4 linked regions of the Homo sapiens genome follow. The protein of the gene in region 1 purifies or fractionates together with the protein of each later gene. This does not show direct contact. Each region holds a gene or a part of one and is shown on either strand. Other genes may lie near its edges.

Region 1 (3,500 bases):
GACAGGGCAACAAACTAAATATGAAAATGGAACTAGGCAGAAAGCAAATAAAAAATAAATATAACAGATGCAAACTTGACACAGCTGGGCCACAGGTTCTCCCAAATGGCTAGAGGCCAGTGCAAAGAGGACCCTGATTAGTTTTACAGTTTAGTGTTCACAAGATACAAACTGACCAAACAGAGTCAGAGAAATATCTATTTTTAGTCAAAAATTTATCTCAAGGGTTTGCATATGGAGGATACTCCATGAGGAAACAGATAAACTCCACAACAATATCCTTACAGCAGAAGGAAAAATAAGTTTCATCGAGCACTCAGAGATGGAAGGCATAGTACTGACCTTCAAGAATGTACGGTCCATCAGAGAGAAGCTTAAAAAAATACATATAGGATGGGCACAGTGGCTCACACCTATAATCCCAGCGCTTTGGGAGGCCAAGGCAGGAGGATCACTTGAGGCCAGGAGTTTGAGACCAGGCTGGGCAACATAGCAAGACCTCATTTCTACAAAAAATAAAAAATTAGCCGGGTGTGGTGGCATGTAGTCCTAGCTACTCAGGAGGGTGCGGCGGCAAGATCGCCTGAGCCCAGGAGTTTGAGGTTGCGGTAAGCTATGATCGCGCCACTGCATTCCAGCCTGAGCAACAGAGCGAGACCCTGTCTCTAAAAACAGAAAAAAAAAGTTACTATACCTATATTACTATACCCATATATTACTGTACCTATATTTACCTGATGCATATATAAGTTGAGGGCATTATAGTAATCCATTCGATTCCCCTTGAACTTCAGTTGGTCGTAAAGGACATAGTTCATGGCATCCAGCACCTGGCTCTGGAGTTCTATTTCCATTATCATGGATGATTCACCTGAAACACAGAGATCTACTCTGGGACCCAAGCACAAAAAAGGTTGTGACAGGTGCCCCAAACAACTCACAACATGAAGACATTGGCAATGGCCTAACAATATTAATCAAGTGTTGCCAATCTAGGAAGCAGAAGGCAGTATGTATTTGAAGTGTTTTAGGTTCAACACTTCAACCAGGTAAACACGTGGTCACGTCATTTTATCACTTTTTCATGACATAATGGCAGCACACTAACAAATCTCTCAAATTAACCAATTCCTCTAGATTTTCTTTCATAAATACAGCTGGATCCAAAGCAATGCCACACCTGCCTTGAAGGCCAAGCTGGGGTGGCGACTGTTTATGCCCCGAAGGGTTTTGCAAACAAGCTCCACGATGCTGTCAATTTGGGCCTGGATGTCTTTGAGGCTGATGTCGGAGAGAGGATTGCAGTACTGGTCAATATATACAGCACCTGAAAATGAACAAGAATTACCGAATAAATTCTCACGTTACCCTTTTCTTATTAGTTTGCAATTTTACCCTGGACATCCTGGGACATGGCTCTTTACACCATCCCACTGGACAAGCTTCATGTTTTGGCCATGGACCTTGCTGCTAACACACTGAGAAGGAGCAACAAACATTTTCATAACAAAGTAGCTTTAACTTTAAAAAAAAAAATACATAAATCAAACTTCTCTCAGAAGTCATGGACTAAAAAACTGCGTGGTATATGGCGCAGTTTCATGTTCTATTACAAAGAGAAGTAAATGACATCAAGGAGATCTTTTCAAGCTACTTCTCTCTCCCTAGCTGTTATAGGTTCCAAATCCAACAACTCTGAAAACTTAATGGTATAAGGCAGTTCCTTTAAAAAAACAAAACAACAAAAAAAAACAACTTGAAAGCCCTCCATGACAGATGTGCCATTTCAACAAATTACACATCTCAAGGGTGAACAGTAAATGGATTCTGGAGCTAACCCCACTTTCCAATGAGATAAACAGTTATGCTCGGGGAACCTACAGCTGAAAAGCTGTGCAGAGCACACTGCAGACAGTCTCTTAAGAATCACTCCTCTTCACAGTCTTAGGTAATTTTGGAAGCAGAGACTGAAGGGCTAACAGCATCATTTGGGTAAGGACACCGTTATGTGGGAAGCTCTCGAGTCACCTTAAATTAAAGAGATCTCAGACCAGCTCAGAACCTGGACTCCCTTACCAATGCTCCAGAGCTCAAAGCAGTTGAACGGGTGTCAAGACACCTCGACCCCAGTCCCAGTGTTGCCACCAGCCAGGGACTGTCTCCTCGGCCTCCGAGGGCCCCAGCTTCCCTACCTGGAAGCTGAAGCAGTTTATGCTGCACATTTCTGAAGTCCGTTCCTTCCTAATGCTATGATTCCCAGACTTCTTCGATGGCATCAGCATTATTCCAGTCAGTCACCAAGGATCAGAAACTTGGAGAGCCAACTGTCATTCACTCAACTACTAAACAACTTCCAATGGCTTCTCAATGCTTATGACACTGATGTGGAAGTTCTTTGAAAATTATAACTTTGTATTTAGAAAATGAAAAAGGAGTATTTGTTTTCATACATAAGCTACAAAAAAATATACTATTCTTAACTGTGAAATAAACAGAAGATAGGATGCTTCTCAACTCCAGTATACAAATGAGGGGATTCTAGCAGTGAGAATTTATTTTAATCAACTGAAACAGATGTTTCATTTCCTTTTGGATGATACTAGGTTTTCATACACTTGATAAACATTTACACTAAGCATTGTGAGGTATACAGTGATCCTAACACAAGGACCACAACACGGGAAGCTTAGGGACTAGTTACAGAAACAAATGTATACACAGGAAACAGAAAAAATGCAAGACAGCTTACTATTAAATGCTACTGTAGCTCTGAGGTGAGTAAAATCTCCAAGTAGTCAGTGGAAATTTAATGGAAGTGAGGCTTGAGCTGAATTATGGAGGGGGAGTAGGATTTTCAAGAGGGATTATGAGAAGGAGGGATATCATGAATGAGGAAGTGAAGCCAGGTGTATTTGTGGGGCACCAGTCTAGACAATGGCCTGGCTGGAGCAAATGGGACATCCTGGAGAGTACGGAGCAAAGGTCTGGACCAGATTATGCAGGGCATTGAAAAGCAGGTAGAGGTTAAATATAAAAGGGAAATCAGTTGTCCACATTGCAGGTTTCACATGCAGTGGTGAAGGCTAGATTTCTAATGGGGCTGGCACTGGTATTTTGGCTGACTTGGAGGGAAGGGGGGGTAATGTTCATGAAAGCAAGTATTACTCAGAAAGTTGTTGCCAGGAGAGGTGGCCATAGACTGCATGAGACTAGTTACAGAAGCCAGCCAGGTGTGGTGGCACTTGAGCACGGGAGTTTGAATCTAGCATAGGTGACATAGCAAGACCCCGTCTCTAAAAATAAATACATTTTTTTTAAAAAAAGGAATAGTAACAGAATGGGAACATGACTATGAGATACACTGGAATGGAAAAAAAAATCAACAATCTGGTAAAACATCAGAAGTAGGGAATAAAAGTAAACGACCAGTCATATTTGTATTTCATAACCATAATTTATGGGAATGTTTGTGTAATATTGTAGGAATTCAAAATCATTTT
Region 2 (3,500 bases), on another chromosome or scaffold:
AGCCCTGAAGATCAATCCCTCCGTGACAGGCATTCACTTCTGCCCTAAGTGTGTCAGAAAGATCCCATTTTGTTTCCTAACTCAGGCCAACCCTCCTTTGCCTCCAAAATTCAGTGTTAACTAACCAATTACTTAAGAGACGGATCCCTCTTCCTTCTGTGGATAGTTCATCTGTTAAGGATCCATTATCACCTGTCTCACTCCTCCTAAGGAGTCCTAGTATAAAAGGGCCAGGGTAGGAGTAGGGAAGCTGGTTGGCATGGAGGGTCACAAGATCCAGAATGGCTAGGGATGGAAAAAGAATACCCTGGTTCTTTGGGGGATTCTGCCAAAGGAGCTTTATTGACCATTTTTTTAAAGGAAAAACACTGAATGATCTTGAGGATGGTAAACTGTCTCCTCTTCTGGGTTCCAGAAGCCCTTATGCTACGTTCAGTATTAAGAAAAGCCCTGAACAAGTGGAGGATGCTGCTTCTGGCAGCAGGGAGGGAGGGTAGATGCCACAGCCAACCCAGAGAATGGCAAACAGTGCCAATCCAAACAAGGCAGGGAACCTCTGTGTGGTGTGAATGGGCATGTGACTGTGATGCAAAGTGCCTGGGGCTCACAGGCTCCCAACAGCCAGTTCTCGCAGATAGGACTGGGTAAGGCTGCGCAGTTCGTCCATGGCATAGTCCTCAGGCATGGGAAGCCGGCCAATGTGGGGAGCCAAGAGGCGCAAAGGGACTCGCTGAGGGTCTGGTGTTGAGTCGGAGGTTCTATCAGGAGGATGATGCAGACTCAGCACCACGCGCAGCAGGTTGGCTACACGTTTGGCCATGTCTAGAGAGAAAAACTAGAGTCAAGCACTGAGCATGGGGTCTGGAGAAGGGTGGTAGGCACTGAGGGTGGGGTGTAATAATCATAAAAACAGGAAGCAAGAAGGCAGAAAGAGTGAGGAGGTTAGAGGCTTACCTGACTGAGCCAGGCGATCTTTAGCACTGTAACACTGAATCTGCTCTATCCGACTGCACAGTGAAGTCACTTTGATGTGTAACTGCTCCAGGTCATTACCTGAGCAATCCACCTACAAAGAAGCAGAGAAGCCAATTAATCCAAGGGGAGTTCCTATCACTCCAATCCCACCTATAGACTCTACACAAAACCTTGAAACAACAGTGAGGTGAGGGAGGGGAAAATCCAAGATGATGACACAGGGCCAAGCCACCACCATCTAGTGGAGGACAAGGCACTAATTATGCAGTAATAGCCAAGAGGAAGGTAACACAGTTACCTAGCCTTGGACTAGGAAAAGTCTTGAGATCCCGAACTATACAGCAAGCTTTAATAACACAGCACCAAAAATCAAGATAAATTGGGTTCAGAGAGATGGTATGACTTCTAAAGAGCACACAAGGAAGTAAAAAATGCAGCCAGAACCAACATTTAATTTAGGTCCCCTGACTCCAAGTTTATAGCCTTTTCTAAAACACCAAAAAAGCTGTGTGCAGGGGGCAGGAGGATCAAGAGCAAGACAGGTTATTTGCTCTCATGAAACTGATAGAAAATAAATAAGAAAACACAAAACAGTAATAAATCCTGAAAAATCACAAGCCATGTAGATAATTTAAACAGGTGGATGTGGCAGAGAGAAACTGGATAGCTACTTGAGACTGGAGGACCAAGAGAGGCTTCTTTAAGGAGGTCATATTTAAATTGAGACCTGAATAACAAGGAGAGAGCTCAGCTTTCCAGGCAAAGAGAAGACAGCTAAAACCCCCAAAGGTGGGAATTCAAAGGAGATTTACATGGTGACATGTAGGGTAAGGAGAAGAAGCAGAACAAGATAATACTAGAGAGTTTTTATGTAACATAGGTTTTTTTTTTTTTTTTTTGGGAGAAGGGGGGTCTCGTTATGTTGCTCAGGCTGGTCTCAAGCAATCCTCCTGCCTCAGCCTCCCAAAGTACTAGGATTACAGTCATGCACCACCACATCCAGCTATGTGCTGGCACATTGATAGTACCCTTTGCTTAATCCCTATACTTATCAAGCTATAGTAATTGCTGCTTTACTTGTATGTATCTCCCCCACAAAATCATTATTTTGGTAAGGGCAGAACACATACTGTTTACCTTTATATTCCCCAAACCCACTACAGTGCTTGGCATACAGTGAGTTCTCCATAATAGGTTGTGTGAATGAATTACTCAATATTCAATGAGAAAGTGGTTTCTTCAAGTGATTATTTAGAAATGATGTTCTTGATTCATACTAAAAGTACAGCAAACATTGAATTATGTCTATTATGTGCCAGGCACTGTACTAGGAGTTGGAACTTTGATGAGGATAATAATAGATAACAATTATTAAGCATTTAGTAGAGGCCGAGGTCAGGAGTTTGAGACCAGCCTGGCCAACATGGTGAAACCCCGTCTCTACTAAAATACACACACACACACACAAAGCTGGGTGTGGTGGCACACGCCTGTAATCCCAGCTACTGGGGAGGCTGAGGCAGGAGAATTGTTTGAAGCTGGGAGATGCAGTGAGCTGAGATTGTGCCACTGCCCTCCAGCCTGGGTGACAGAGTAAAACTCTGCCTAAAAAAAAAAAAAAAAAGGCATTTAGTACATGAAAGGTACTATGTAAAACACTTCATGTAGATTTTGTTTAATCTTTGTGAAAATCTGTCAATATGAACTATAATCTGTACTACTGTCTACCCCACCCACCTTTTTCTTTCAGACGAGAGAGGTAGTTAACTTGCTCAAGATTACATAGCCAGTGAATTTGGAAGCCACAAATTGAATCTATAAGTCTGCTTCCAGAACTTGAGCTGTTAACCTCTACACTCTATTGCCTGTAACCGTAAAAGACCTTCCCAAAAGGGGCTTATAGCAACCTGAAAATATGAATAAGTAACTACAATATGGTCTGACAGGTGCACTAGTAGAATAATGTACTAAGTATCTTGGTAGTAAGAAAGTGCAATTAATTATCTCTGGGGAAAAGCAGAGAGAAGTAGGGGTAACAGCAACCTAGATCTTAAAAGGATGAGTTTAAGTGTGCTAGGTAGTGTGGAACATAATATGGTTTGTTAGAAACACCAGAAGTAATTTAGTGTGAGTACAGCAGGCTAGCAAGGCTGGAACGTGGAATAAGAGTGGTAGGAGTAAGGCAGGAAAGGTAAAAGCCTCTAAAAGGACTTGAATCCTATATTTATTATAATGAGTTTGGTTTTTGCACCATAAGCAAGCAGTGGAGACTCATTTTACGACTACAAAGACTGACCTTAAGGCTGCGTGCAGGCGTGCGGTAAGCTCATGCCTGTAATCCCAGCAATTTGGGAGGCCAAGGTGGGCCGATCACTTGAGGCCAGGAATTCAAGACCAGCCTGGCCAATGTGGTGAAACACTATCTCTACTAAAAATACAAAAGTTAGCTGCGTGTGGTGGCACACACCCTATACTCCCAGCTACTTGGGAGGCTGGGGCATGAGACTCACTTAAGACTGGGAGGC
Region 3 (3,500 bases), on another chromosome or scaffold:
ATCTCAGCTCTGGGAGGAGAGACTGACAGCGGATTCAGGCAAGGATAACCACTCATTCCTGGCCTGCCCTGAGCCTGCTGTGCCTACCTTTCCCCAACAGTGAGTCAAGTTCTAGGCTTGACTTTGTGAGGTCACCAGAGGACCTTTGCTGAGCCCCCACTCTGAAATATGTTCATCTGTGTATTTTGTGTTCCACCTCAAGTCTTTATCAGGAATCCATTTTTAAAAGTCACCACTGAAGACACATCCATTCTGTCCCTCCATCTCCCCTCTGTCAGATCCATGTGATAAACTTGGTCTCTCTTGGAGAACTGGCTGTACAGGCTCCTGTAAGATCTGATAATTATGTTTCCTCCTTTCACTCTGGCTGCCAGGAAGCTCATAGTCAAAACTAATGCTGTGAATCATAAAGCTTCACATTAGCCTTCATAGCTAACATATTTGATTTCTCCTCCTTTTTATACATTCGGTGTCAAGATTTTACAGTTTTATCAAACACACAATGTGCTGTTCTTTGCCAATTTGCCCTCACACCCAGTCCTGGCCCTCCCCCTACCTCCTCTCTACTGCAGGGGGTCAGCTCCTATGAACGACATTTCCCAGGCTTCTTAGATAGCTGGCCTCCAGCGAGGTTCAGCCAGTGGACAGCATTGGCAGGAGCCTGGAGAGGGAGGAGCACTGGGGTTTTTCCCCTTCTCTGCTTTAAGCAGCTTCTTGGCAACAGCTGCTCCTTCTCTCGGCTCCACCTCCTCCTGCCCAGGCCAATTATGGCTCCAGCTTCCACTGGGTGTCCCCAGCTCCAGGGCGCCAGTAACCCCATCTTCTCACTTTGTCCTCCCGGCCCAAGGGGTAGAGGCAGCTTCCTCCAGTTTTTAACCTCAGAGTCGCTGCCTTCCCCAGGTTGCCTTTTTTCTTTTTTCTTTTTTTTTTTTTTTTTTTTGAGACAGAGTCTTGCTCTGTCATCCAGGCTGCAGTGCAGTGGCAGGATCTTGGTTCACTGCAACCTCTGCCTCCTGGGTTCAAGACATTCTCCTGCCTCAGCCTCCCGGGTAGCTGGGATTACAGATAACCACTACCACACCCAGATAGTTTTTGTGTTTTTAGTAGAGACAGGGTTTCGCCATGTTGGCCAGGCTGGTCTTGAACTCCTGACCTCAAGTGATCCACCTGCCTCAGCCTCTCAAAGTGCTGAGATTACTGGCGTGAGCCACTGCGTCTGAGCCCTTTTATCATTTCTAACACATGAGTAACTGACTCCCAGGATCAAATTCTACCTATTGAGTTACCTGTTACAGGGTTTATTTCCTACTGGACTTAGACTGATACATGTGCCCCACGTGCAAGGTCAGGTCAGACCCATTTTGAAAACAGTTGGGGCATAAATCATCCACAGAGTGCAGGCTCTGCAGGCCTTGTTGAGAGGAGCAAAAGCCCAGAGGCAGGAACAGATGAACTTCAGGGCAGGAAGGAGAGCAAGTTCCCTGAGGCAGGGGATTCAGGTGGGAAAAAGGACCCAGTGGGGCTCAAGAATGGCACCTTCGGCCGAGGCGGGCAGATTGCCTGAGCTCAGGAGTTCAAGACCAGCCTGCGCAACACAGTGGAACCCTGTCTCCACTGAAATACAAAAAATTAGCCAGGTGTGGTGGTGTGTGCCTGTAGTCCCAGTTACTCAGGAGGCTGAGGCAGGAGATTTGCTTGAACCCGGGAGGCGGAGGTTGCAGTGAGCTGCGATTGTGCCACTGCACTCCAGCCTCGGCAACAGAGTGAGACTCCATCTCAAAAAACAAAACAAAACAAAAAAGATGGCACCTTCAGGCCAGAGCGAGGCAGGCTGGGGCAGAGGGCGGGCTTTGGAGACAACAGATCAGGGTTCCAGCTCTGACCCTCCCTCCCCGTGTGACCCAACACTTCACCTTTCTAAGCCTCCACTTTCTTATCTGTAAAATGGGAAAAATAATACTAGCCTCAGTGGGTTTTAGGAGAATCAAATGAAATGAAGCATCTAAAGTGCCTGAAATAAGAGTTGGTGGAGAAATGTCAGGCCTCACAGGCCAGATGGAGGGGTTTGGATATGATGCCTGTGTGAGGTCTGTTCTGTAAAACTGTCCTTCTCCAGGCCCCAAAGCATGAAATTCAGCACCCCCACCAGGTGTGTTAAATATTCACAATATGTGAGAACAGGATACCAACTGGTCCTGTCACACCAGTGCATATGGGTGCCTGCCCCCACCCAGGCCCGGGTTCCCCAAGGAAGCCACCTCTCAGAGCTGTGGTCCACGGCGTTCTCGTCATCCTCGGAGACTCTGAACTCGCTGATGCGGATCCACTCACTGCTGCGGATACCCACTGAGTAGTAGACGTAGAGCCTGCGGTTGTGCTGGAAGCTGGGGTGGAAGGCAATGCCCAGGAAGCCACGCTCGTCACCCTCCCAGGGCGAGGTGAGCACCACCCGGCTGATGTTCAGGAAAGGCTTCCCCAGCCTCGAGCGGTCGGGCAGGTAGGCCCACACCAGCCCCACCTGCTCGGCCACGAAGAAGCGGTGGGTGCCATCCCTGGCATGGACCATGGCCACGGGGTTGCGCAGCCCGTTGGCCACCTCCTCCAGGCACAGCTGCAGGCAGCCCTTGGCATCGGCTACCACGTGGCCCAGGTTTGAGTTGAGGTTCTTGTTGACCAGCAGGTAAGGGAAGCAGTAGTCCGTGTCATCCAGGGACAGGTAGCGGCAGAACCTGGCAAGGTTGCCCTCCAGCGCCCAGAGCTCCTGGTCAGTTGACAGGTGACGGAACAGCCCCCGGCACTTATGCCACATGTCCAGGCAGTAATCCTGGCAGAGCCCGGGCACCGTGCGCAGGGGCGTGAATGGGTCCTCGGCGTCATAGAGGTGGGCTGCATACGGCGAGCATTCCTGCAGAGACAGTAATGGCTCAGAGATGTTTTGTGGAGGTGCTTACCAGCCCAAGGTTACCTTGGGCGGGTCCCCCATCTCTCAGAGCCTCAGTCTGCTGATCCATAAAATGGAGACAACGCCATCTGCCTGTTACCACGATAAGCCTCAGTGACAGTAGCAAACCTTAGGTCTTAATGTTTGTGTTGTTGTTAGAACACTATTACTACTCCTATTAATAGCAGCAGCAACAGCAGCAGCTACTCTGGAGCACCTGCCGTATGCCAGGAAGAGTCTGAGGCACTGTCACCCACCCTCTCTGTGTTAACAGTGCGCCTCCGCCCCTACATCAGCACAGCTCACTGCTGCACTTAACTTGGGTTCCTGCCCAAGGCTCACCTCCGATCCTCCCTGACCACCCCGTCCGCACCCTCTAGTACCTTCCGGCCTCTATCTGTTGAAAAACAGTAAAACACGAAGTGCTCTCTAACTTGGCTCTGCCCATGGACAGCTCCATCATCAGCTCCTGCCTCTCCCCACCTCTCCAGCCTCCTGTCTACCTTCCATCTCCTGATACTCTGATATGGCTTGGATCTGTGTCCCTACCCAAATCTCG
Region 4 (4,287 bases), on another chromosome or scaffold:
AACAAGAAGAACTTTAACATTTAGAAACATTATTTCCTCTTAGATTTTCTTTTCTTAAAAGTTGGGGAAAAAAGAAAACTATAACCAATATTATATATCTCATTATCCCTTACCACTCAGTCATATCTATGCCAAAACTTCTGTTTAGCTATAGGCAATCCTTTCCTTCATATCAGAAATAATTTAATTGAGCGAGGGGTAGGGTGGATATAAGTTCAGTATATGTAGCTTCACTTTTTAAAGGAAATTCTGATATATTCTGAAAAAAAATTGCTAATCGTATTAGTAAGTATATAATGCTGCATCCTCCACGTGTAACAACTTGTTTTCTGTCACATGCAAATTCAGCTGCTTTCCTTCGTTACTCCATTCAACAAATTTATATATTAACAGTACATTCAAAGCATTTAAAACTTCACAGTGCCAGCCGGGCGCGGTGGCTCACGCCTGTAATCCCAGCACTATGGGAGGCCAAGGCGGGCAGATCATCAGGTCAGGAGATCGAGACCATCCTGGCTAACACAGTGAAACCCTGTCTCTACTAAAAATACAAAAAATTAGCCCGGCATGGTGGCACGTGCCTATAATTCCAGCTACTCGAGAGGCTGAGGCAGGGGAATCACTTGAACCCGGGAGGCAGAGGTTGCAGCGAGCTGAGATTGCATCACTACACTCCAGCCTGGGTGACAGAGTGAGACTCCGTCTCAAATAAATAAATAAATAAATAAATAAAACTTCACAGTGCCCAGGACACCTGAGACATTCTTGGTGCTTGTGCTCTTTGAAAGAGCTGAGCAACCTAAAGAATATGACTTATGTCCAACAATTCAGTCTCCTTTATTATACCATCAGATAAAGTGATGTTTTACAAGGAAAATGGAAATATTTTAAAACTCGAGGAGCCCAGCACATCTAAAGGATTTCTGTTTCATGAACTTACGAAAAAGCTGGACAGTCGGAAAAGTCTTACTTGCTTCAAACAAGTCAGACCGTTTTCTCCTGTTACCTATGCTTACAGTCAGATTCCCATTTACCTACAATCTGGCCTTGAGATCCAATATCAAGGCTGGTGGCAGTAAAATGGAGCCAAACACTGTGATTTCTCCCATGTAAATTTGGAATTTGAGAAGTTAGAAAAGTGCTGGCTGCCAGACAAGGTGACTTCCCACTCACCTCCAGCTCAGTGTTCAACATTTTTAAATATCAGCCCCCACCCTCGCCAGGCCACCAACACCAGCCAGGAGCCTTTGAAGACACTTTCCCCCTATGCAATTTGAATGTATAACGTATTTTAAACTACATACCATATGTACTGTATGTACGTCTGTGCGTGATGTATCAAAAGGGTAAAACTTTTTCATCCCTCCACGAACCAATTTTCCCCTGCTGGGGGCGATATCACCCCTGTTGAAAATGCACGTCCTAAACAACAGCTACAAAAACTCAAACTCACATTTAATTGTCTTTTCAAGGCCAGAAGTTCCTAAATCAATAATGATTTAGCACCACTTCAGTCAAAACAATTACATCCGAATCATTTTCAAAATAGAAGCTTAAAATATATATAATCCATGAAATGCATAAAATTGGGCTAAGTATTGTTCCAGCAGTCAGCAACATTCTGGTTAATTTTTTGCATTACTCTCTGTTCGTTAAGCTCTATTTGATGCTTGCTCACAGAACCAAAGATTTGATTAGTGTTGAATTTTACACCTTTCAAGAAGCGAAAAAACCAAACACTCTCTGAGAAAACATTTTTCTGGATGGCAGCAATTGGTAATTTGCAAAAGCAGATAGAAAATGTTCATAGAAAGCACTGCAATTTTCAATTTACCAAACGAATAAACTAACCTCTGCTGCTCACAAAGACCTGAAAATAAATGGCCCACAAAGTTATCAGTCATAAAAACAAATCAATGTTTCATTAAAAAACCACTGTGCCATCTGCATATGCAACCGAGGAGAAACTTCTCCATCCAAAAAGATTCCAGACTGCTCATGTTCTACCATAACTTCAAAAAACAACCAACCCCCACCCCAGCATTTTCAAATACTCATGGCCAGAAGTTTAATAAGACTAAGAAACAGAACAGTCACCAAGAAATGCAGGATATATCCTGTCCAGTCCACTACTAGGATGGTTCTGCATTTTTATATTGTTTCAAAAATAGTGAGGGCAAAGAAAGTCCTCTGTATGAGCCAATAAAAAGAACTTCATCACATTAAAAATTGAGCTCACCTACCTTCACTGGTCCATGTTCATTACTGGAGCCCTGCACCAGCTGGACGTACAACATCATGAAAACATTCACCACTACCCACTCTCTGTACATTTTGAATATTTCAATATCCACTGATTACTAAGCAGTTGACATCAGGCAGCTAGAGAAAATTGTTTCAAAAGGCATTCTCCAGAAGGAAAGTTTGAAACCTCAAAACTTCACACAGAAAACCAAATAATCAGTTCTGATCAAAATCCAATGAAATTATTTCAATTAGGCAAGGTACGCTTTTTTTGCACAATCTTAGGGGTGGGGAGAGAGAGATGAAAAAAATCAAAATGTTCTCCAAAAATAATCAGAAGGTGGACATGTCTTCTACCTGAAATTAGAAAGCACTCTAAATTTACTTCATGTCCAGAAAATTAAAAAAATCTCTCCAATGTATGCCGCAGGTTCTAGTTGCTTTGTAAGGAGGTGGTGTGGCCACCAATGCTTACAGCTACAGAAAGCTGGAACCCAACTCTGGATTGAAACTTTTTTGCACAACCTTCATGGAAGCTTGCAGAAGCATGTGTCTTAAATCTGACACAGATTTTGGCAGAAAATGCAGAGAAGTCTTGGCTGTAATCCTGTTGCGTCCCTACCAATAGCAGGGCAGTTTTAAGAACTGACTCAAATGTTCAGGGCTGCCGTTATTTTAAAGCAGATAACCTGTAACATGAAACCCCAGCACATAGCTTTGACCTTTGTATCTCAGTGGGATTGCTTAAGAAGGGACCTCAGATGCTCATGCATCTGCTGCCAATGACACACAGAAAGCAATCAAATATGATTTTTAAAACCTGCACATGCACAAAAATAATAAAAACATCCATCCATACATGCAAAAAAAGGCAAACATACACAAAACGACTTTTTAAACAGAAGCTTAGTAACTTAGGTATCTCAAATGAAAAACACTGATTTTTAAAGAAACAATGATTAGGTTTATTTGCATGTGCCAGGAAATATCCTACATTTATTGTTACAAAAACCATGTTATCACGTTAGTGTGGAATTCTTTAGAAGCACCGGCTAAATAAGCTTTAGAAATGGAATGCCTTCAATGGCTCAATCTCAGAAATGGCAAAATTCTAGGACACATCAAGACCTGCTCTTCCGCTTTCCACTAGTTCCCAATCTTTGATTTCCAGGTTTTGGCCCTTTCAAACCCATTTTTTGCGTTTCTGAAATCAAGAATAGCTTGAGAAATCTCTTCATTGGTGTTCATCACAAATGGACCTAGGGCAGAAAGAGACATTCAGAAAGTTCTGGGTGGCAATATTTTCCTCTACCACTAGAAATGATATATATTTCTGTAGTTCTTAATTTAAAACAAAATCCAAGCACATCCGAAGAGTAAAAGTTTATTTTCACAGTGTTCAATCCCCAAGGACTGTAAGATGAGTTTCTTGACTAGGATTGTATATGATTATTGATTATAAAGACGAAACTTCAGATAAATGCAATGGCATCTCACCCATTCAGTATAGGTTTCTCACCAGCAATGGTGATCTTTTTTATTAAAAAGAGTCTTAGATTTGGTTCTATTACAACCAATTTTGTAGTTATTTTTATAACATTAGCTGATGTCAAGAATTGAACCCATCTGATACAAAGAACTGACAAATCTTATCATAGCTTTGGTGTCTAAGCAGCATATAAGGCTGTATACTTATTTGAGGATTCTAAGTCATTTTTTGAAAATCAGCAGCACCTATTGACAATAAACAGAAGATTATAAAAATTTCAAGTCGAAGAGCATCATTTTTTAAAAGTTTTCTAGGGGTTGGCAAATGTTTGCTAGGAAGGGCTAGATAGTATGTATTTTAGATTTTGTGGGTCAAACAGTGTCTGTCTCAACTACTCAACTCTTTCATCAAAGTGCAAAAGCAGCCATAGATAATGCAAAAGTGAATAGGTATGGCTGTGTCCCAATAAAACTTCATTTACAAAAACATGCAGTGGGCAGATGTAGCCCATCGACCATAGTTTGCTGACCCTTTTGTCTAATTGCTGGGTCTGA

The links.
Region 2: the proteins of FBXO21 (region 1) and NUP98 purify together in Homo sapiens (co-immunoprecipitation; one study listed by IntAct). This does not show direct contact.
Region 3: the proteins of FBXO21 (region 1) and HHIPL1 purify together in Homo sapiens (co-immunoprecipitation; one large-scale study listed by IntAct). This does not show direct contact.
Region 4: the proteins of FBXO21 (region 1) and VEGFD purify together in Homo sapiens (co-immunoprecipitation; one large-scale study listed by IntAct). This does not show direct contact.

The regions. Positions count from the first base shown.
Region 1 is NC_000012.12:117,173,471-117,176,970, forward strand, and holds part of FBXO21 (F-box only protein 21), read right to left. Parts: intron 1,328-3,500; coding exon 1,181-1,327; intron 872-1,180; coding exon 735-871; intron 1-734. UniProt on the Homo sapiens protein: Substrate-recognition component of the SCF (SKP1-CUL1-F-box protein)-type E3 ubiquitin ligase complex.
Region 2 is NC_000011.10:3,675,555-3,679,054, forward strand, and holds part of NUP98 (nuclear pore complex protein Nup98-Nup96 isoform 1 precursor), read right to left. Parts: intron 1,067-3,500; coding exon 955-1,066; intron 823-954; coding exon 605-822; 3' UTR 1-604. UniProt on the Homo sapiens protein: Plays a role in the nuclear pore complex (NPC) assembly and/or maintenance. NUP98 and NUP96 are involved in the bidirectional transport across the NPC. May anchor NUP153 and TPR to the NPC.
Region 3 is NC_000014.9:99,651,629-99,655,128, reverse strand, and holds part of HHIPL1 (HHIP-like protein 1 isoform a precursor), read right to left. Parts: intron 2,906-3,500; coding exon 2,259-2,905; intron 1-2,258.
Region 4 is NC_000023.11:15,381,614-15,385,900, forward strand, and holds the start of VEGFD (vascular endothelial growth factor D preproprotein), read right to left. Parts: upstream 2,801-4,287; 5' UTR 2,334-2,800; coding exon 2,244-2,333; intron 1-2,243. Other genes in the region: PIR (pirin), read right to left, coding at 3,391-3,503. UniProt on the Homo sapiens protein: Growth factor active in angiogenesis, lymphangiogenesis and endothelial cell growth, stimulating their proliferation and migration and also has effects on the permeability of blood vessels.